Linked DNA regions of Homo sapiens: all the other regions are reported to be linked to region 2. The links are microRNA targets in miRTarBase. Many come from high-throughput screens and were not tested one by one. Region 2 holds a microRNA gene; each other region holds the end of a gene's coding sequence.

Evidence for each region. Region 2 holds the annotated microRNA hsa-miR-6763-3p (CUCCCCGGCCUCUGCCCCCAG, at 1,382-1,402, opposite strand). A microRNA usually pairs through its seed, bases 2 to 8, with sites in the 3' UTR of a target mRNA and lowers its output. Matches are read on the target gene's strand: a 7mer-m8 pairs with bases 2 to 8, a 7mer-A1 pairs with bases 2 to 7 and ends in A, and an 8mer does both.
Region 1: miRTarBase lists CPNE5 as a target of hsa-miR-6763-3p. Seed matches in the 3' UTR shown: 7mer-m8 at 5,340-5,346.
Region 3: the mRNA of NKX2-3 is a reported target of hsa-miR-6763-3p. Seed matches in the 3' UTR shown: 7mer-m8 at 2,584-2,590.

The regions. Positions count from the first base shown.
Region 1 is chr6:36,736,382-36,744,883 of GRCh38, forward strand. It overlaps CPNE5 (copine 5), which reads right to left. Exons shown (of 21, transcript NM_020939.2): 19 at 7,887-7,944; 20 at 7,308-7,381; 21 at 4,394-6,105. The coding sequence ends at 5,887. It also overlaps the pseudogene GPR166P. Among named protein-coding and RNA genes, the nearest start is that of RAB44, 43 kb to the left of the region's middle.
Region 2 is chr12:132,579,443-132,583,442 of GRCh38, reverse strand. It overlaps MIR6763 (microRNA 6763), which reads right to left and starts at 1,446; the gene lies at 1,382-1,446. It overlaps FBRSL1 (fibrosin like 1), which reads right to left. Exons shown (of 19, transcript NM_001367871.1): 16 at 1,927-2,004; 17 at 1,619-1,702; 18 at 1,177-1,381; 19 at 1-472.
Region 3 is chr10:99,533,374-99,541,875 of GRCh38, forward strand. It overlaps NKX2-3 (NK2 homeobox 3), which reads left to right. Exons shown (of 2, transcript NM_145285.3): 1 at 1-116; 2 at 1,612-3,151. The coding sequence ends at 2,348. Among named protein-coding and RNA genes, the nearest start is that of NKX2-3, 4.7 kb to the left of the region's middle. RefSeq lists silencers at 1,932-2,081, 3,657-3,736 and an enhancer at 6,779-7,487.

The DNA of each region.
Region 1 (8,502 bases), not on the chromosome of region 2:
ATAGATACATATGTGTGTGTGTATGTATGCACATATATATTTATCAGATTATGAAAACAATGTGTACTCCCTGCAGAAATTTTAGAAATAAATTTTAAAGAAGAAAATGAAAATTACCCTAGTCTTACCACTTATGATAGTTACTATTGACATCTGTTTTATTTTATTTCCTTGCTTTCTTACAGCTGAGGAAACTGAGGTAGAGAAACATTAAGTAACTCTCCCAGGGGCCAGGTGCGGTGGCGCCTGTAATCCCAGCACTTTGGGAGGCCGAGGCATGAGAATCGCTTGAACCTAGGAGGCGGAGGTTGCAGTGAGTCAAGATCTCACTCCAGCCTGGGTGATAGAGTGAGATTCTGTTTCTAAAAAAATAAATAAATAAATAAATCCCAGGGTACTGGAGCTAGCAAGCAGCAGAGGCAGGATTTGAACCCAGGGTACTAATGGAGTCCATCCCATGGGGTTGTCATGAGGTCTGCAGGGGCTAATGTGTGCCAAGGACAGGCCTTATCTGGGCCCACTACATGCAGGGGGTCTGTGAAAAAAGGAGGCTTAGCAGGAATGGGGAAGGCGGCCTTTGGGGCTGGCTGGTTTCTACTTTGTCCTTGTGTGTTTGAAACAGAATGGAGCCCAATGCTACGTTCACCACGCAGCTCACGGCCACACCTGAGCGACTGCTCCGACTCATCTCTGCTGGGGTCTGTGGCCTCATCCTGCTGGTGGGGCTGTCAGCTAATGGGCTCATGCTGCTGGTGGTGGGCCGGGGCCCGGGCTCCCCCCACCCGCTCCACTCCCTGACCCACAGCCTCATGATGAACATCACGCCATCTGACCTGCTCTTCCTGGCCTGCGTGGTGCCTGTGCTGCTGCTGAGCTTCCTGCAGCACAACTGGTGGCTGGGCCCTGCCATCTGCACCATTAGCCAGGCCACCAACACAGCCACCACGTTCTGCATCTTCTATAGCATGGTGGCCACAGCTCTCCTGCGCCATGTGGCTGTGGCCCGGCCTGACCTGGCCTTCCCAGCCGGCTGGGGCACCCTCTTGCTGCTCTGTGGGGCCATGTGGGCCCTGGGCCTTACAGAATCCCTGCCCAACTGGCTGTTCCAGAGGGTGGCAGTGGAGGAGGAGACAGCGGGGGCTCCCAAGACCCAGGCCTGCCTCTTGCTCCTGAGCCCTGCTGGGACCTCCTGCTACATCAGCCTGCTGGGAGCCCTGGCCTTCCTGCCATGCACGCTGGGGCTGGGCTGCTCTTTCAGCCACGTGGGCTGGCTCCTGTGGACCCAGCCCCAAGGTCCCATGGGAGAGAGCATCCAGGAGCATTAAGAGAACATAGGGCTCAGCCTTGTGGTGCTGGTGGTTTTTGTGCTGATGTGGGGGCCCTGCTCCATGCTGGGTTATGTGGCAGCCATGGGCTACCTGCCTGCCACACCGGCTGCTTTTGTGGCCTCCAGCCTCTGCACCATCCTGGCCTACTCCAATTGCGCTGTCAGCCCTATCCTCTGCTTCTACCTCTCCCGCCCCTTCCAGGCAGGACTCAGGGACCTCTTCTGCAGGCCGATGATGGCCAGGCATCCCAGAGGTGTGGGAGTGGCAGCCTCAGTGGTGGCGACTGTCCAGCCTGGCCGTGACAGGGCCTCAGGAGGCCTGTGGGGCCTGGCGGGGGTCTAAGAGTATAGGCTGATGGATGCGCTGAGATTCAAGGGAGATGGGAAGACCCTTAGGGACCTGACAGCCCATCCCCTCTATTTTACCAGTGGAGAGACTGAGACCCAGAGGGCAGATGGCCCAAACAAGGTCACAAAGCAACTAAATGGCTCAGCTAGAGCTCACATCTCTAGGTAACCAGATGGATCCTCCCACTCCACTTTCAGGCTCAGATCTCTGTAGGCTCCACTGCTCTCTAATTGTGTGATCTTGAGCCTCTGTGTCTCAGTGTTCTCATCTGGAAAATGGGATGATGACAGTACATACCTTCTTCACAGGGTTGTTATGAAGATGAATTTGCTAAACACATGTAAAGTGCTTAGAAGGATGCTTAGTAAGTGCATATGCGTGCTGGTCATTGCTACTATTATTATTTTATTTGTATTAATTCAGGGGTATTTGAGGTGAGTGGACAAGAGGAGGACAGAGGGGCTTCCAAAGGCAGAGAAGTGGGTGGAGAATGATCTGGGGGGTAACAGCCTAGGGTCCTTAATCCTGAAGGCCAGGAGATTGAGTAGGGGGAGCAGAGGGCCAGCCACAGCCTGGGGGGTGAGCTCAGAGGCAGGACAGCCTTTCCCCTCTCTGCCCACCCCTCCAGCTCTGTTCCACACACCCCTCAGTCCAATAGGGGGACAAAAATCCAGTCAACCATGCAGCCATGACTCCGGGACTGTGAATGTCTGAAGCCCTCCTTTCTTCCCTGTGGCTTCTCTTCCTGAAGCACCTGGGGCAGGGATCCCTTTCAGAGCCCTTTTCTTCTCTCCAGAGCCCAATTTGAGGTTTCCATTTTTCCCACCCTCAGTGCCCTCCCTCTGGCCTGCTCAGGGCAGGCTTCAGGCTTCCATGTTGGCCTGGAAACCCGGGAGATTGTCTCTACTGAAATTCCCAAGACAGCACGTTCTGCTTGGTGACGGTGTTACCAGCAAAACACACATACACACACTGACTCTGTGATACAAAGCTTGAGAAACGTTGGGTTGAACCAAATCATACTGGTCCCTTTGCTGTAGGACTTACCAGAGCCTTGAATACCCAAAAGGCCACTGAGACTCTCGAGAGGGACGCACAGCAGGCAGGTTCCCAAACTCCATGCCAGAGAGCCAGTATTCTGTGGAACACACCTTGGGAAAGAATCCACAAGATGCTACGGTGTTGGGCACAGCAAAGATGCTCTTGGTGTCCCGTCCCGCCCCCGGCAGTGGCTCTGTGCCTCAGTCCCCCTGCCAGGCAAGCACCCTCTCCTGACACTTTCCCACGGCCCCTGTGGTGAGGTGACATGAGCTGCTGGTTATGGGAACTTCCCTCCTTCCAAGCTGTGACCCCACCCTGTTCCCACTCAAAGCATATCAGAATGTAAGTCACAGGGGCATGTAATTATAGGGACAGCCGTGAATCAGCACCCATTTACTATAAAATCATAAGAAGTAAACAAGTCCCAAACTTTGGTATAATTAGTTCCAAATTTCTTGTGATGTTCAGGGTGGGAATGGCTGCCTGGAGGGCTAATCTGGGAACAAACTTGCCCAGAGAAGGGAGAAATCCCCTTTTGCTATGATCCTGGTCCCTGATGGCCACAGGGATTTATATGTGAAGAGGAACAAGAGGAAAACAGTGTTTCTTGGGCACCTAAAATGCCATGGGTCCTGGGCGCATGTCACATATGTCACATGCAACCTTATGTACTCGTCACTCTGGCCACACGATGACCCTGCAAGGATGGGGGTGGTGGTGACGACCCCATTGCACAGGGGATGCCAGACTCCTCCTCATGGCACAGTGACTCTGGTGCCCACAGATTACCCAGCCCCTCCTGATGGCTTGGCATCAGTACCCCATGGTTGTAGTATTTCCTCGCTCACTGCCCCAGAGCAGGGGCACCCCTGAGGGTGCAATTCTGTGTGTGCATCTCCAGCATGGTCTCCAATACGTGAGTGGGGCCTGGCACTCATGTTTGGTAAATACTTGTTGAGAGATGAGTGAATGAGTGATCAAATGCAATAAAGCAATCCGTTTATTTTAGAGGAAATTCTGATGATGTTACTCACTTCTCTCACCTCCTCAATGGCTTCCCGTTTCACTCAGTAAATGCCAAAGGCCTCATCATGGCCTATGCGGCCTGTGCATTCTGGCCTCTTCACCTCTCCGACCCCATCTCTAGCACTTTCCCTTCCTGCACTCAGCTCCAGCCACACTGGCCTCGCTCTCCTGCAAATGCACCAAGGAAGCTCCTACCACAGGGCCTTTGCGCCTGCTGGTCCCTCTACTTAGAGCTCCCTTCCCCAGATATCAGCGTGGCTCCCTGTCTTACTTCCTGGGGGCTCACCTCAACCATGACCTCCTCTGAGAGGCCCTCTCTGACCACCTCATCGAAAACATCACCCTCCTTCTCCCTCATGTGTCTTTAGAACTCTTGCTACCACCTGAAATGATGTTACTAGCCTATTTGTTGATGTGTTTGCTGGGTCTCTCCCATATTATCTGTGTGTGTGTTGTAAGCCCTGTGCAGGGACAGGGTCTGTGCTTTGTTCATGGCTGCATCCTCAATGCCTAGCACAGAGCGTGGCACGTGGCCTTTGATTGTAAATCTCACTGAAGCAAACAATTGAAGGAAGCCACAGAGGAGAACTGGACCCTGTCAAGCAGCAACGTCAGTGCTATTTTTCAGAGAAGAAAGAAAAACTTCGTGCTTTACTAAAAGAACCAAATTTACTTCAGTTTAAGGCAAATTCCACACAGAGACTGTCTCAGAGACGGGCACAGAACCAGACACCGTAGAAACACCACCACCATGCATGACGGGGAAGCAGAGGCAGGCGGAAGACGGGGGCCTGGCCTGCACCAGGCACGGAGAGGTCAGTGGGCTGAGGAGCTCCATGCGGCAACAGGGATTGGCATGCATGATCTGCTCCCCGAGTGGGCAAAGGCTGGGCAGCTGGGTGGGCCCGGGAGGGAGATCCCCTTCTTCCCCACCTTTCCCACAGCAGGGGCAGGAGCTCGGGCTCAGATGCCAGAGCCCCAGGCTGAAGGACTAGGGTATGTTTGGGGTGATGGGATGAGACAGGGTGACCCAAAAGCCAAGGCGGCCTCAAGTAGGGTCACATCTGTTAGGAGTAGGATGGGGGGAACTGGGCATGGGATGAATGACCCTCAGGATGTCAGACCTAAAGGAAAACCTGGGGCCATCTGGTCAACCCTCTTGTGGTACAGACATGGAAACTGAGGCCCAAAAGGTAGAAGGGCCTTGCTTGGGTTCCCACATTAGGCAGTGGGGGGAGGCAGGGCTCAAACCCAGGACTCCTGTCTCCTAGCCTCATGGGATACAGGGCAAAGAGCAGGAGCAGTGTGGGAACGTGGGGCTGAGCCACTCCTTACTCAGGCCTCCAGATGGGCAGAGGCGTGGGCACCGAGGGCCCTGGGAAGCCTCTGGAGGGAGGAAGGGATTCCTGAAGCCAGGAGTCAACCATGGAAGTACCTGTGGGCCCACACCAGGGAGAGGCCTCCACAGGCCATCTGTGTGTCTAGAACTTGCATCGTACTGAGTTCGAGAGGCACCAGAAAGGGCTCTGTGCTGAGCAGCCTCCACTTCAGGCCCATCACATGGCCTACGGTCCATGATTACAGCACCCCATGGGGTCCCCGGGGCTCCCAGCGCATCCAGTGTCCCTGGGAGGGTGCACATGTTCAGGCCTTCCTGCAAACCCATCAGCTTCATGGGGTTCACTGGAAATCGGGCACAGGATAGACCACAGGGCGGGGCTCAGGGACAGGAGTAGACACCATGGGAGGATGGGACGGAGATGGGGGGCTGGAGGAGGCCAAGCCCAGGCTTCAGGGTGACAGGTAAGCAAATAGGATTGCCGGGGGTGGGCGACAGGGACCCCAATCACCCTTATTGTTTACACCTTCCTGGCTGGGTTAGAGCCAGGTATTGGGGAAGAAGAGAAGGGCTGGGTCCCTGTGTACCCCTCTTTCACCCGTACCCCCCTAACTCCCTGGGTTTGGGCAATAAGTGAGGCCAAGAAATTGAGGAGGGGTCTTCAGAAGCCCCACCCCCTGGCAGCCTCCCAGGCACACAGATGTCCCAAAGGCCGGGCAGGCCAACTTCGGGGAGTCTGGGGCCCTGGCCTCCCATTCACCTGGCCTCTCCCAGGCCCCAGCCACCTGCCTGCTGAGACCAGGTTCAGATGTGCGTGTGCAGGGGGGACGCAGGGGGCGTGCGGGCTGGGGACTGCGAGGGCGAGTGGGTTGGTGCTGCGGGTGGGGGACGCGGGCGAATGCCCTGTGCCTTCATGTAGGACACCAGTTGGTCAGGGATCTCTGCCAGCACGTCTCGGGCCAGGCGGGCCATGCTCAGCACGTGGTTGCCTGTGCGGTCCACGTAGTCCCGGAAGGGTACAAACTGGCAAGTGGGAGGGCAGGGTCAGGCAGTGCCTCCTGTGGGACCCTGGCCCCCAAAATCTCCAGGCCTGGGGTTGCATCCCCACCCCCCTCCCAGCCTCTGCTCACTTGACTCAATCCCCCCACCTTTCTGAATTACCTGAGGGACTGTATCCCTCAACTCCCTGGGTTTGGGCAGTCAGTAACTATAGTCATAGTCACTATTCTTTCATTCACTCGACAAAAACTGAGCCCTATTCCACACCAGGACACACCACTGAACACGATTTCTCCACCTCGGCACTAAGCACAGGCTCTGAGTAGGTGCTTCCGAAATGCCAACTGAATCCCTGACTTCTGGGGCACGTGCCCTCCTGGGTTTCCCCCGACCTGTCCAGCAGAGCCCTCTCTCTCTGGCCTCTCTTCGTTCCTTTTCTCTCTGGGGCTAATCTGGCCAATGCCTAATGCCAGGCCCATCTGGCTTCTTCCCGGGGGTGCCCTCCATCCTGAGCGCCTCTTCTGGCTCACTCCTGCCTCCAGGCCTTAGCATGGGCCGGTCCCACCTCCCAGGTTGTCTTGCTCTGGTTTCCAGCCCCCTATGTTTGGTCTCCACACCTGGGATACTGGGCCCCAATTTTTAAACCAAGGGGGTATGCAGGATGTCAGCTTTGTCTTCTGCATCTCCTAAGCACTAGGGCCTCCTCTGCAGGGGATGAGTGGGGGAAGTGCTTGCGGAGGGTGCATTCTTCCACGTGAGACTGCATGGGAATTCCCTGAGGACAAAGGTCTTTCTGCTCATTATATTTGCACCGTTCATGGAGATGCTTACATTGATTCAGTTAACCGAGCAATGCCTATTCTTGGAGAAGGCTGCAGCAACACTAAAGACACTGCCTCAGCCTTCAAGGGGCAGAAAAAAACCAGAACGAGGCTGACCACAGAGGCCTGGAGGCTGAGGAAGGGCTGGCAGAGGGTTCTGGCCTCTGGCTGGGCACCCGCAATGTTAGGAGTGTGTCCCAGATGTGACAGAGGGGGGCCCAGCCCAGACCACAGCATGGCCGAGGACTGACTCCTACTCCCTTCGGTGGTGGCTGGGCCACTTTGGGGCTCCCAGTGCCTCCCTTCTGGGCCCTTCACCAGGGAAGCCCCCAAAGGGGGTGTGAGGTCCGCCTGGCTAGAGGGGCTCTTGAATTTCCCATGGGGCAGGCAAGGCCTGGGCTTCACCTGGACGATGTCGCGTTCAGCCAGCTTCCCCCGGGAGGAGATCCGCACGTCGTCGCCATCCAGCTCCACCATGGCTGTGAGGGGAGGAGTGTCATGGGGCGGGGTGAGATTAACGGTGGACCCCTGGCCCTAGCAGGAGAGTGGACTTGTCCTTTCATCCCAGGCCAATCCAGGGCCGAGACCACTGGCCCATGCCCCGTGTTAGAGATGAGGAAACTGAGGCCAGGGGCCAGGAGGAGCCCGATCAGGTGAGCCTCTGACTTTGAGCCCAGTGCTTTGGTTCACCACCCTCCCCAGACTCCCAGGGCTGGAGGAGAAAGAAGTGACTTGGGGCCTCCTCCCCACAGCCTTGGGATGTGGGTGTGGGTGCACACCCAGACCTGACACACCCTTCCCTGAGCAAACAAATGCGTCCCACACCCTGCACACTCACCCAGACACACACGCCCAGGCGGGAGCTCTCACTCTTTTGGGAGGGGTCATTCCCAGGGGACCACAGCCTCTGGGGAAACATCTGGGGTGGGGGCAGGGTTGCGTGGCTAGGGAAGGAAAGGAGGGGAAGGCAGCAGCTGGACTCACCGTCGAACTCTGCCTGGCCCACGCCGACGATAATGATGGACATGGGGAGCTTGGCAGCCTGGGAGACAGCATGGGGGGCAGGGAAAGGTTGGACCCAATTGGGACCCAGTTAAAAGGAAGGAGAAATCAGGGGTAGGACAGGAAGGGGTGGGCAGGAAAGAAATGGGAGAGTGAACATGGAGAGACAGAGAAACACAGAAAAGGGGGTAGGGAGAGGGAGGGCACTCAGAGATAAAGAGCAAAGGAAACCAGGCTGCGCCTGGAGGAGAGAGGGAGGGTGGCAGGGGGAATGGGTCATAGGTCTGCTTTGGTGAGTCACCCCCATCCCCTCTTACAGGGAGACCACCGGCTTGGGGAGCCATGTTCCTGAGCTTCCCCAACTCTGAGCCTCCCCTCCCACTCCTTTGACCTGGCCAGGCTGGCCTGGGAAAGGGGGAAGCGGTCCTAGAGATGGGTTAATGAGGGAGTCATTGGGGTCTGGAGGGAGTAGACCAGAGCGTGACTAAGAGGTGGGAACAGAGCTCACCAGCCAGATCTCTCATGATCTGGGCACCCCTTCCACCCGCTAGAATCCACTATCCAGCACCGGACTCTGCAGCCAGAGGCCAGAAGGTGG
Region 2 (4,000 bases):
GTGGGGCTCGCGGTCGCGGTAGGGGCGCTCCGGGGGCTCCAAGAGGGCGGCGGAGCCCGGGGCGGGGGCGGCAGCGGGGAAGGCGCGACGTGGCAGCTCCAGGCCGCGGAAAGGCTCCCACGCGAAGCCCGGCGCGCCCAGGCGCTCGCGGCCCAGGCCGAGCTGCAGGGGCGCGGGGTGCAGGCCGCCCGCCGGGGGCTCGGAGGCCTCGTCCTCCCCGCGCTCCTCCTTGACCTTCACGTCTCCAGGGGCCGCCTTGCTGTGGGGCGGGGATGCGCGCGCGGGCATCTTGGCGGCCTCCTCCTTGGCCGGGGAGCGGCTCTCCTTGACCCGAGGTTCGGCCTCGCGCTCCGCGGGGGCCCCGGACCGGCCCAGCTCGCTCTGGGCCCGGAGCAGGAGGCCGCTGACGGGGTGGCCAGCGGGGGTGGCGGGCGAGGCCCGGCTCAGCAGGCGCGTCTTCTCCAGGAGGTCCCTGGGGGCGGCAGGGCGGACCCGTCACTCCCGAGACCTCCGTCCTGCCGCGCGGCGCAGCCCCGGGATGTTCCCGTTGCTTGTCGGGGCCTCCAGTTTCTGGGTGGCCGGTGACCCCTCAGCACCCACAGCTCCCGCACCCCCACAGGCTCCCAAAACCTACGCGTCCTCTCCCCGCTGGGCGGCCTGGAAACCTTGGCCGGGAGACGGAAGCGGGATGAGCCGCCTGCAGCGACTTCGGCTCCCCACGGGCCCCTCCCTGTTAGGACAGGGGGGCCTCCCGGCAGCCGCACCCCCGAACTCCTCCCTCAAACTCCGTGGGTCAGGGCGCGGCCACCTGGAGGTCTCCCGGATGGCAGGTGTGGGTGCCTGTGGTGGGGTCTTCACCCTCCTCATCCTTCCTAGCCCCAGGGCCCAGGCTTCACTCCCCACCGCAGGGAGGAGTCGCCGGGGAGCAGAGCTTTGGCCCCCGTACCCCGGGGCTCAGCAGAGCTGGACAGACTGTGAGTGCGCAGCAGTGGGGCGAGGAGGGTGAGAGGGAATGGGGGAGGGGGAACGGGGAAGGGGAACAGGGGGAGGGGGAACGGTGAGGGAGAGGAAACGGGGAGAAGAGGGAACGGGGGAGGGGGAACCGGGGATGACGGGAGGGGGGAAAGAACGGGGTAGGGGTGTGTGGTGGGGATACGGAACAAGAGGGCCACTCACCGTTCCTGCTCCTCCTTGCCATTGTCCGGCTCTCGGTCATGGTTGGTCAGGGCTGACACCCGCTCCGCGTCCACGGACTTGGGCCACGGGGGCGGAGCCGGGAAGGAGGGCGGTGCCCGGTGCAGTCGGTTCCAGGCCTCATGGGGGCTGGGCAGGCCGTGCACGGAGGAGCCCTCCTTGGGGGCAAAGATGCTGCCACCGGGAGCTGGGGGCAGAGGCCGGGGAGCATGAGGTTGGGTCTGTCTGCTCCCCAGCCACTCCCCAGGAGAACCCGGTAGGGGTTTTAGAAGGGTCCCAGGCTGACACTGAGAAGGGGGTGCCCCAAGGAGGCCCAGCCCAGAGAGGAGGGAGGTCAGCCAGGCATCGGGGTTCCTGCAGAGGACACAGGCATGGGGGAGGGGCGCGGGCATCGGGGGAGGGGGGCACAGGCTGGGTCACTCACCCAGTGCATGGCTGCCCAGGCCCCCAAAGGCGTGGCTGCTCAGGCTGCCCAGGCCCCCAAAGGTGCTCGGTCTGCTGAAAGGGTCTGTGGGGGCAACCGCGGGACCCAGAGGTCTGTGAGGCGTGGGCTGCGGCTCCCACCTGGCCCAGTGGGGGCTGCTGTAGAGGCTTTGGGCCTGGTGGGTACTGCCTGCATGACCCAAGGGGCTCCCTGGGGCTCGGGGCCACCTTCCCGCCCACCTAATTCCCCCGCCACAAGGCTGCTGAGGAACCAGCCAGGCTGCGTGGGCTGAATTCAGAGACACCCACCTGTCAGGGGGCCAGTGGGCAGGAAGCTGCCAGGATGGGCTGAGGGTCCAAATGGGTTGGAGGCAGGATGGGCGGCACCTGGGGGGGGCAGCCAGGTTTGACAGAAGCCAGGAGAGAGCACCAGGGCCTCCCATCTGCAGCTCTGTTCACAGGGAGCACCCCAATTTCCTCTGTGAACCTTCACCTCCCATTCTCTCGCATGCCCTGAGGGGTGAAGCGTGTCCAGTCAGAGTAAGAGGTGGAATCTACCCCACAATTCGGAGGAGGTTTGACTTGGAGCCGCAGTGGCAGCCATCCTGGGACCCCAAGGGGGGCAGGGAGGGAGGTGCTGAGTGCGATGCAACCCTCGGAGCAAAGGGGCTGCAACTTGGGCAGAGACAAAGTCCAAGTAACATGCACCTTGATCGGACCACTCCTGAAGCCTTTATCTCAGAGCTTTCACCTGGGAGCTGATAGATGGTCCTCACTTCTTAATGTGGTGCTGGGCCTCAGGCCTGGATGGACACGGTTCTGTCTTGGAGGCTGCACATGGCAGCCCCTTGTGGCATTCCTGGGCACAGGCCCAGCCCACAGCACCACGTCAACATCAGCCCTGGCCCCCCAACAACCCTTGGAGAGCAACCGTGTGGGGCCTGGGCCCGGGCCCTGGGAGGGGCTGCTGCAGGGGATTCAGTGCTGTTGGTCAGGGGCCGTCCTCCACATGGGTCCAGAGAGCAGGTTTCTGGTAAAGACCAGCAGGGCGTCATCTTTAGGTTACTCCGACTCCCTCCCAGCCCTAATCTTAGGGACCTCAAAGATGGGGTGCTCATGCCTCCCATGTAGGACGCGGCAAGTTGTATTCAGAGCTTCTGGTCTCCACTGAGCTGTGGCATGAAAGCTGATGCCACTCTTCTAAACTAGAGAGGAAGACAGCCTGCCCCATGCTACGAAAACACAGCTTGTCAAAGCGTGTGCAGGAGGAGATGGAGAGTACACTGCCTCAAATGCCCGCACTGGGAGAGGCTGAGGAATTAATATTCTCAACCACCAGATCAAGCTAGACAGGGCCAGAAAAGTGAGCGACACACAGGGAAACACACAGAGAAGGCAGCGAGGTCAGAGCTGCTCCTTTAAAAATACTGGTGAAATTGGCCGGGCGCAGTGGCTCACGCCTGTAATCCCAGCACTTTGGGAGGCCGAGGCAGGAGGATCATCTGAGGTCAGGAGTTTGAGACCAGCCTGGCCAACATGGTGAAACCATGTCTCTACTAAAAATACAAAAATTAGCCAGGTGTAGTGGCGCCTGCCTGTAGTCCCAGCCACTTGGGAGGCTGAGGCAGGAGAATCGCTTGAACCCGGGAGGTGGAGGTCGCAGTGAGCCAAGATCGCACCACTGCACTCCAGCCTGGCGACACAGCAAGACTTCGTCTCAAAATAAATAAATTAAAATAAAATACTGGTGAAATGGACAAACTTCTGGTGAGATTAATGAAGGAAAAAAGACGACACAGCCAAGCAACATTAAGAATTGCCAGGGCCTGCGGAGTTCAGGCGTGACGGATGGACACCGACAGCTACGGAGCCTGCCCCAAATCAACTTACTGGAAACACTCGCGTTACTGAAACCGATGCCAGAAGAAACAGCTTGAGGAATACCACACCCAGTGGAGAAAAAAAATCAGTACTTGGAACCTGAACTGTGAGCCTCCAAGCCTTGAAGGCAGTGAGGATCAGACCTCACAAGAGCTCTTCCAGAGAGCAGAAAAAAGGAAAGCGCCTTAACTCACTGAAGACGGCAAAGAGCCCTCGTGACAAAACCTGCCAGGTGCAGCACAGGAAAGTAAAGGCCAGGCTTACTCAGGAAACTCATCTGGAACAAAGCGCTGGAACAGTGGCTCCAGAAACGTACCGACAGTTTACACAAGGGGGCAAACCACCCACTCCTAGATATGACTTTCTACACAGAAAAGGTAAAGGAATTGACAGACAAATGTCTTTGCATTCGTAAGAATTTAGCAGGATTGCTAGTTACAGCATCAAGAGATGGCATACAAATCTTCAAAACAGATACGCACTTCTGTTTTCTAGCAACAGC
Region 3 (8,502 bases), not on the chromosome of region 2:
CCACGGGGATTCAGGGCTGTGTCCCCAGGGCTATGTCCACACGGTCCTGCGAGACTCGTGCAGCGAGCCCAAGGAACATGAAGAGGAGCCCGAGGTCGTGAGGGACCGGAGCCAAAGTGAGTAGAGGGGGAAAGAAAACGCACCCGCACACCTGGAGCAATGGCAGAGCGCACACAAACAGCCCACAGACCTTGCCAGCGCAGCTGCCCATCCCTTTACCCTTTGGCTGGGGCCATGCCTCCGCCCTGGTCACCGACAGCTCCACAAAGCGCAGGTACCTGCAAGGGAGCCGGGGTGGAGAGACAAGGACGAGGTGACCCTGACAACTACTCCCCCCAAAAGGGGGAAATGAGGGAAGGGAAGGTGGTTACTGCTGCCCTGATGCTGAGAGGCGACGTGGGCTCAGCGCCTGGGTCCTCATAACTGGCAGTATTTTTGCTCTTCCCCCCGCCCCAAAAGGCTCTTCCCCCAAAAAGGGCAGGAGCCTGGACCTTTTTCGTTTTCCCTCTAGGGTGAGATGAGTTCTCTTAGCCCAGGGCAGCCACCCCTTCTTCTCCGAAAAGACAGCCCAAGCAGCCTGTGTCTCTCGCACCCGCAGGGGCAGGAACTTTGGTGGAGGCCAGCTGGGCGGTTTCCTCCCTTCTCTGCTTGGAGCTCAGCGTCCTTGAACCCGTGGCACTCGGTAGAGAGAGAGGAGATGATCGGAAAGTGCGTGGGAACAATGTCTATTCCGCGCGACCATAGCTCTCACATCCCTAAGGCGCCAGCCTTTTTTGAAAATCCGTAACGTTTTGCTTTGTGTCCCAGGCTGCGGGCCTAATAGAAAACGCGCCGAACTTGAGTCCGAGATCTTGGCTGCTCACATCGGATGGGAAGTGAATTGATAGGGAGATGGGATAATCAAATAAAGTCCCCAAGGAAGTGTATTTAAGAGGACAGAATCACAGTCTTTCCCCAAGAGGCGGTTTGATGTGGCAGAGGCCAAGGCCTATGCTCTCATAGTTCCCAGAGCCGAAAATCGGCATGAAACTGTCTATAACTAGTCAATCAAACTTCATTTTCAAAGTGCACACAGATGTCGTCATAACATTCGCTTGTAGTCTTTTATAAGCCACACACACACACAAGTCCCTGAGCCATGCACAAGCGTTACACTCAGAACAGATTTTCGCGCAACCCATGCCCACCGGCCCACTCATACCAACACGCCTCACACCTTCAGTTATCCTTGGTGGAGTAGAATGCAAACGAGTTTGCAAATACTGTAGTTATTATGTAGTTGCAAGCCTTCATCCTGAAAATAGTCATTAGCACGTCGAGCCGCATATTTAATACAGAGTAATCTCTTCTCTCGCAGATGCTCAAGATCCAAATAAACACGCACTAACTACCCCTCTCCACGAAACGCGCCTCCGCCTGCTAAGGGCGTTCTTTGGGTACTGGGGCTGTCTCAGGGTCCCACAGCGCCAGGAGCCACAAACGTTCCCAAAAGTCCAGCCATTTACTACCGCACGCTCTGCGCAGCCACCAAAAAGGGTCACGGTGCTCCAGGACAGGAGCCGCGGTGCGGCCGGGAACAGCTAAGGACGCTGTTGTTTGCTTCTTCCGCAGAAAGCTGCCAGCTGAAGAAGTCTCTAGAGACGGCCGGAGACTGCAAGGCGGCGGAGGAGAGCGAGAGGCCGAAGCCACGCAGCCGCCGGAAGCCCCGGGTCCTCTTCTCGCAAGCCCAGGTCTTCGAGCTGGAACGCAGGTTCAAGCAGCAGCGGTACCTGTCGGCACCCGAGCGCGAGCACCTCGCCAGCAGCCTGAAGCTCACATCCACTCAGGTGAAAATCTGGTTCCAGAATCGCAGGTACAAGTGCAAGAGACAGCGGCAGGACAAGTCTCTGGAGCTTGGCGCACACGCGCCCCCGCCGCCGCCGCGCCGCGTGGCTGTCCCGGTGCTGGTGCGGGACGGCAAGCCGTGCGTCACGCCCAGCGCGCAGGCCTACGGCGCGCCCTACAGCGTGGGCGCCAGCGCCTACTCCTACAACAGCTTCCCCGCCTACGGCTATGGGAACTCGGCCGCGGCCGCCGCCGCCGCCGCCGCCGCCGCCGCAGCAGCGGCGGCCTACAGCAGCAGCTATGGCTGTGCGTACCCGGCGGGCGGCGGCGGCGGCGGCGGCGGGACCTCCGCGGCGACCACTGCCATGCAGCCCGCCTGCAGCGCGGCCGGAGGCGGCCCCTTTGTGAACGTGAGCAACCTAGGAGGCTTCGGCAGCGGCGGCAGCGCACAGCCGTTGCACCAGGGTACTGCAGCCGGGGCCGCGTGCGCTCAGGGCACCTTGCAGGGCATCCGGGCCTGGTAGGGACGGGGCGGGTCACGCGGCGGGCACCCCAGCGCAGCCTGGCGCCGCGGGACTGAAGCTCGAGAAGGGCCTGACCTAAAGGTCAGGTCCCCTCGTTAAAAAAATATGTACGTCTAGCTCCTCAGGGCTTCGGATCGCAGCTCACTCGAGGCCTGGGGAAGGGGACTCAGGGGCGAGGAGGATGACTGGGTCCGGTCGCCAGGACTGTCTCTGAGGCAGAAACGCCGGCTGGGCGCCGGGGAGGACGATGGCCCCGACCCTGGCAGCGAGAGGAGACCAGGAGGCTAGGACCCTGGCCGCGCTTGGTTCTTCCAAAGCGAGAAGGGCTTCTCTCCCTCTGCCTTTCCGCGGCCTCCGCGAAGCGTTGGCGGGGAGCCCAAGGACATAACAAATTAAAAGCATGAAGGAGAGAAAAATGGGGGTCGTGGCTTGAGAAATTCCAGGCCCTACCGATCCTCTGCCCCCTTTGCGGGCCTGGAGCGCCATAGCACAGTCGATTTCGTTTCGCAGCTGTCTCCCCTCCGCAGCAGATACCTCGGTCCAGATCTCCGGATTGTCGGGGGACGCAGGACTCTTCGAGGAAAACCAGCCGAATGAGATCAAAAGTTGGGGGTGGGGGGAGGCTGAACAAACTCAGGACCTGGTGGCCCACCGGAGGTGTTACCGGGTTTCCTTTCTGTTTCGTATTCTGTATTCAGCACATGTTATCTATCTATCTATCTATATAACTATAACCACACGCCGTGTAGACACCCGCTGCCACACACTACAGGAGTCAATAAACAAGGTGCAATATTTTCAAATCGTTGGCCGGCTACAGAATTTGTTTAGCCCCAAAGAGTGGAGAGGAATCCTTTAAATAGGGCGGGAAGGGGAGGAAAAGGTGCGAGGGGGAAAGCCATCCTCCCTGGGCGATCGCAGGCCTGGTCTCCCATGAGCCAGGCCCCAGGCTGCAAGTCTGATCTCTTCGGGGCTTTGTTCATTAATTTCTGTTTACTCTTGAGGGCTGGACAGGTCGAAGGCTCAGGGCCATTTGAAGTCCCTGGCTTTGCAGTTCCCCCTAAGTTTTACCCAGATGCTTGGACTAGCTGTATAGACCTGCGTTCGGTCAAGTCTTGCACTCTGCCCCACCTCGAGGGTCGCCAGGGAAAAGGAAGCCTCGCTCGCAGTCCCAGCTGTTGGCCGCGCGAAGGCGGCTCCTTCCCTGGCTGCAGCCAGGGCTACCAACGCGCCCGGGGGCGCTGCGCTGCGCCCCACTGCGGCCGAGCTCTCCCCCTTGGCCGCCCTCCCTTCTCCCCCGGCGGCCGCGGCTTTATGCGGCTCCTTGTCACTTGCGGAGAATGCCTGTGCGAGGCCTGTGCTGCCACACGGCCGATTGTGAGCGTGCCAAGGCGGGTGAATGGGGAGGCCTCAGAGCGCCGCGCCATTGTGGGGCCGGGCCTCGCTGAAAGGCGGCTCCGGGCCGGGAAGGTGCGGAAAGAATGGCTTTTTATTGGAGTCCCGAACAAAAGGTGTGGTAGGAAGGCGAGGTCCCCTGCGCGAACAAAAACCCCAGCGCGTCGGATTGACGTCCCCCCCGAGCTCCCCATTGCTTCTCAGAGCGGGGGCTTTGTGCAGCAGTCTGCTCAACAGAGGGACGGAGAAATGTGCGGGGGTTTTGTTCCCCACTTTTTGTGCTCTGGGGGAGGGGGCGGCAGGGGGACGGGGGCTGGGCGGGCAGCAGGGAGGGGCGCGCTGATTAGGCCGGGCCGGCCGGGGCGCTGAGACGTTCAGCGGGAGTCGGCGGCCTGAATGCTGGGTCATTATTGCTACAAGTTTAGCAATTTCTCCCTTACAGGAGGGGGTGGGGCTGCTAGGCTGTGGCGGGGCCGCCCGGCTGGGGAGCTGTAGAGACCCGAGGAGGAGGAAGAAAAAGAAGGAGGGAAGGGAGGGAGGGAGGCAGGCAGGCAAGGGAGCCCTCCGAAGCCCTCTGACCGCCCAGGATGCGACTTGGACACATCCGAAAGGGCCTAGCGGGAGGCTAGAGAAGCGGCACTTGGGGAGCGAAGACCTTCCCTCCCCTTGCCTCTCAGGCGGCAGAAAGACCCCAGAGCCGAGCGTGAGCCAGTGCACCAGACTGCTGGTCCCGCAGCAACTCGCGGCCGGGTCCCTCCTCTTTCACGTCGCCCCCGAACTGGGACACAGCCTCCCACCACCGTGATGCCCGAATCCCCTTCCCTACCGCGCTCCCTCTTCTGGAGCCGTTACCTTTCCATGGATTGCTTAGGCCAAGGGCTGGAGAGGAAATTCTTGGCTTGTTACTTGCTTCTCACAGCCTGCGGCTGCAGACTTTCATTCATTCATTCATCCATTCAACTAGGTATACTGAGCACCTACTATGTATTCACTTGTACTGTTGAGTTGCTGGGAACGGTGAAAAAAAAAGTGTCCCTAGATTGGTGGATTTTATTTTCAGGTGTGAAGGTGTGGGTGGAGGGAGGGTGAGACAATAAACAAATGCAAAAACAGAAGATGAATTCTAAAAAGGAAATAGAACCAAACGCTGGGAACGGAGGTCTTTTCAAGTAGGCGGTCGGGAAAGCCTGTTGAGATTACATTTAAGTCAATGCCTGAATGACAAAACGAAGTCATTCCAACAGTGCTTTGCTATCTCAGCCTCCATGCCTCAGCACATGCCCTCCCGTCCATCTGGAATGCCCTTCCACCCCCATTTTTCTGGTGAACTTTTGCCTCTCCTTCAAGGCCAAGCTTCTTTCCTGAACCACCTAAGTAGAGGTAATCACTCTCACATTTGTGCCACCAGAGTCTTAGGTACTTTCCAATATCATAACATGGTGTCATGCAAAGATTTATTTGTCTCTCTCTCTCCACAGGAGGTTGTGGAGGGCCAGGTTGGCATCTTTTCCCTCTGGGACAGGTACCACAGTAGGAGCTCATGGGGCCAGGAGGGTTGTGGGATGCCCTCTGGGCTCTGTCAGCACCTCTTCCCTGGTGCTTCATGGCTGCCTGAATTGCCTGGGTGCTGTTGAGCTGTGGCCTTGGCTGCTAGCTTCGAGGGAAATGTGGAACTGGAATCTTGCCTTCCCTGGGCCTAGTTCAGGACACTTGGCAACCCATCTCCAACCCAGCCGAAGGTCCCACCTCTTCTGTACCCCCTAATGCTGCCTAAGGACATCCCTGCCCACAATGTTGCACCTCGTCCTACAGCTCAATACCTAGAATAGGAGGGAGGCTAAGACCTTGGTGAAGACCTTGACCCCAGGGCACAAAATTTGGGGCCTGGGGAACACTAGGATGTGTAAGAAACCCAGGACCCGCGTCTGGGACCCAATTCGACTTCCCCTACATTCATTAGGTGCAGGGAATGGAAAGTCAGCAAGATCTGGGCAAGCACCCTGTGAGAGCTCACTCCCCCAGCACCTTCGCTCTTGGAACTGAAGTCTCTAGGAATAGCTGCCCTTGCTCCACTGGGGGTTTCCTAAGTAAGCAACTACTTTGCCTCCAATGCAGTCCCTTATCCTGCTGGGCCTTGGCCTCTCAGTGCTCCCAGCACCACACCCCCACTTTCCTTGCTGGGCTTCCTCTTGCCCTGCGTTGGTCTTCCTTCACTCTGCATTCCCTCTTGTTCTGGAAAAGTGGCTTGTGATCCTCACAGAGGAAACAGAACTGGTTCTGTGGATTGGCTTCCGCAAGTTTGCGTGTCTTGAGATACTTGAAGCCAGCCTAGACCAGCCCGCTCCCTACCCTGCTCCGGAGCCTGCAGTCTCCAGGTATAAATAGCTCCCACCACTTCACTGGAGGATTTCCCTACTGCTCCTTGCTGGGGTTCCTCCATCAGAGGTTGAAAACCCTTGACCAACGCAGGTACCTCTTCCTTGGGCTCCCTCTCCAGGGTAAAAGTTCCCCCTGACAGGACAAACTGCTGCTTCATTAAATTGTCCTGTGAGTCAGGAGGAATCAAAATCCAGGCAGGCCTTCTAATGACCCATGAGACTTGGGACAGGCCAAGTAAGTTGTTCCTCTGGGCTGTGGTTTTTGAGATCTATGGTAGAGAGAAGGGTGAACCATATGATTTCAGAGGTCACTTCAGGTTCAACCCTCCTGGGTTCCCTTGGATGAGTGTGTAACCCCTCCCCACCCAATAAGCTCAGGGTGGGTTGGCACCACTGAGGGAAGAAGTGGGATAGGTTTTAGATGGCTAGTACTTTTTCCTGCAAAGCCTGATCTTGAGGAGTTAAGAGGATGAACTCTGAAGTCAGACTGAGTCTATTCTATTCTCAGCAGCACCACAACCAGCAGTGGAAACTTTGAATAAGTTAGAAGTGCCCTGAACCTCAGTTTCTTCCTCTATAAAATGGGTATGCTTGTAGCACCTCTTTTTTTTTTTTTTGCCTACAGTAAAACATGCAAATAGTTAAGGATGCAACTCAGTGAATGTTTATATAGTAAACATTCGTGTATCAATCATTTTGGCTTTAAAAGTTAAATAAGATGATCAATCTCAATACCTAGGATATTGCGTCGACGTTCTAGGAAGATGTCTAGGACTCTATTCCGCCCTCGAGGCACTCCCAGGTCCCCGGGGTGAGGGGGGTGGAAACAGGGGGGTGGGAACAGGGGCGCGGGGGGGGTCGTGGGAAACAGGGCGGCACAAGGACCGAAAACCCCAGCTCCGCGGGCGCGTGTCACCACAGAGATCCGGCAGAGCCATTGCGGGTAAACCTGGGACAGGTGGCGCCCGGCGGGGTCTGCAGGGCTTTGATTTCGGCTGCATCTGGGACATTCGACAGAAGGGGAAGGTGGAAGGACGTTTCCTGGGGGAGGTTCGAGTCCTCTCTAGCCCACCACTGCAGGGAGGAAAGGGTAAGGAGTGGAAACCCGGCCCCTCTCCGCGGGGCTTCTCCCGGGCCCGCGCGCGCCGCCGGAGTGACTTGGGGCCGCGCCTCTGCCAGGGTGGGGCCGGGTGGGCAGGGGCTTCCCTGGAGACTCGCGCGGGAGACCGGGAGGTCCAAGGCCCCAGTCGCAGCCGCCCAGTTCCTCGCTTTCTGGTTCAGGACGCCAGTGGGGACTTCCCGGGCGCCTCCTCCCAACTCCAGGGGCCCGAGCCCTGGAAGGACTGTGATTTGTCCGCGACTGGAGAGAGTTCAGTGCAGTCTGGCCCCGCGCGAGAGGGAAGGATCCTTTCTAACCGCCCGGAGCAGCGCAGGTGCCACGGGGCGGGGCGCTCAGGGGCCGGCCGCTGCTTCCCAGGCGGGCCCGGGGCGGTCAGAGCCAGCTGGGCCGGGAGTGCCCCGGCGAGCCCCGGGAGAGCCTAGCCGACTCTGCAGGTGAGAGTCCAAACTGCAAGAGCCAGCAGTCCTGACGGTCGCGGAGGTAGGACGTCCTGGGTGGGGCTTAAGGGGCACGGGGAGGCCCCTGCAGGGAGTCCTGGGGAGGCGTCAGGGGGAGGGGGCACTGATCTCTAAACCACGTTTGCTTTGTTGAAAATATGCCCCCACCCCACCCCACCTAGATTGTAAGTAACAGATTAATAACAGCTGAGGTTTTCCAAAGGAGCGATTAGTAAACTTCTTATTGGAGTGGGAGATACATATAGAAAACCCCAAGCGTACGGCTCGCTCTATCTTTATAAACGGAACCCTTCCATGCTACCAACTCCCAGATGAAGAAGCAGAACATTATCAGTCCCCGGAAAGTACCCCCATGCTCTCTTCTTGTCACTACTACCTGGAGCCACTAAGGGTAACCACTGTCCTGGCTTCTAACAGCACAGGTTAGTTTTGCCCGTTTGGGAACTTTATCTAAATGGAATCATATAGATTGCACTCTTGTGCGCCTGCTTCATTCGTTCGTGAGATTTATCCATATGGCTGCATGTAGTTGTAGGTCGTTCATTTCAGTTACTTTAGAGTGTTCCACGGTGTGAATATACCACAATCAATGTATCCATTCTGCTGTTTATAGGTATTTGGATTGTTTCTAGTTTTTAGGCTGTTGTGAATAGCACCACTACGATATGCTAAAACAGCGTCCAATAGAACTTCCTGCGATGATAAAAAATGTTCTATATCTGTGTTGTCCAACATGGTAGCCATTAGTGACATGTGACTTTTGAGCACTTGAAATGTGACAGGTGTGACTGAGGAACTCAATT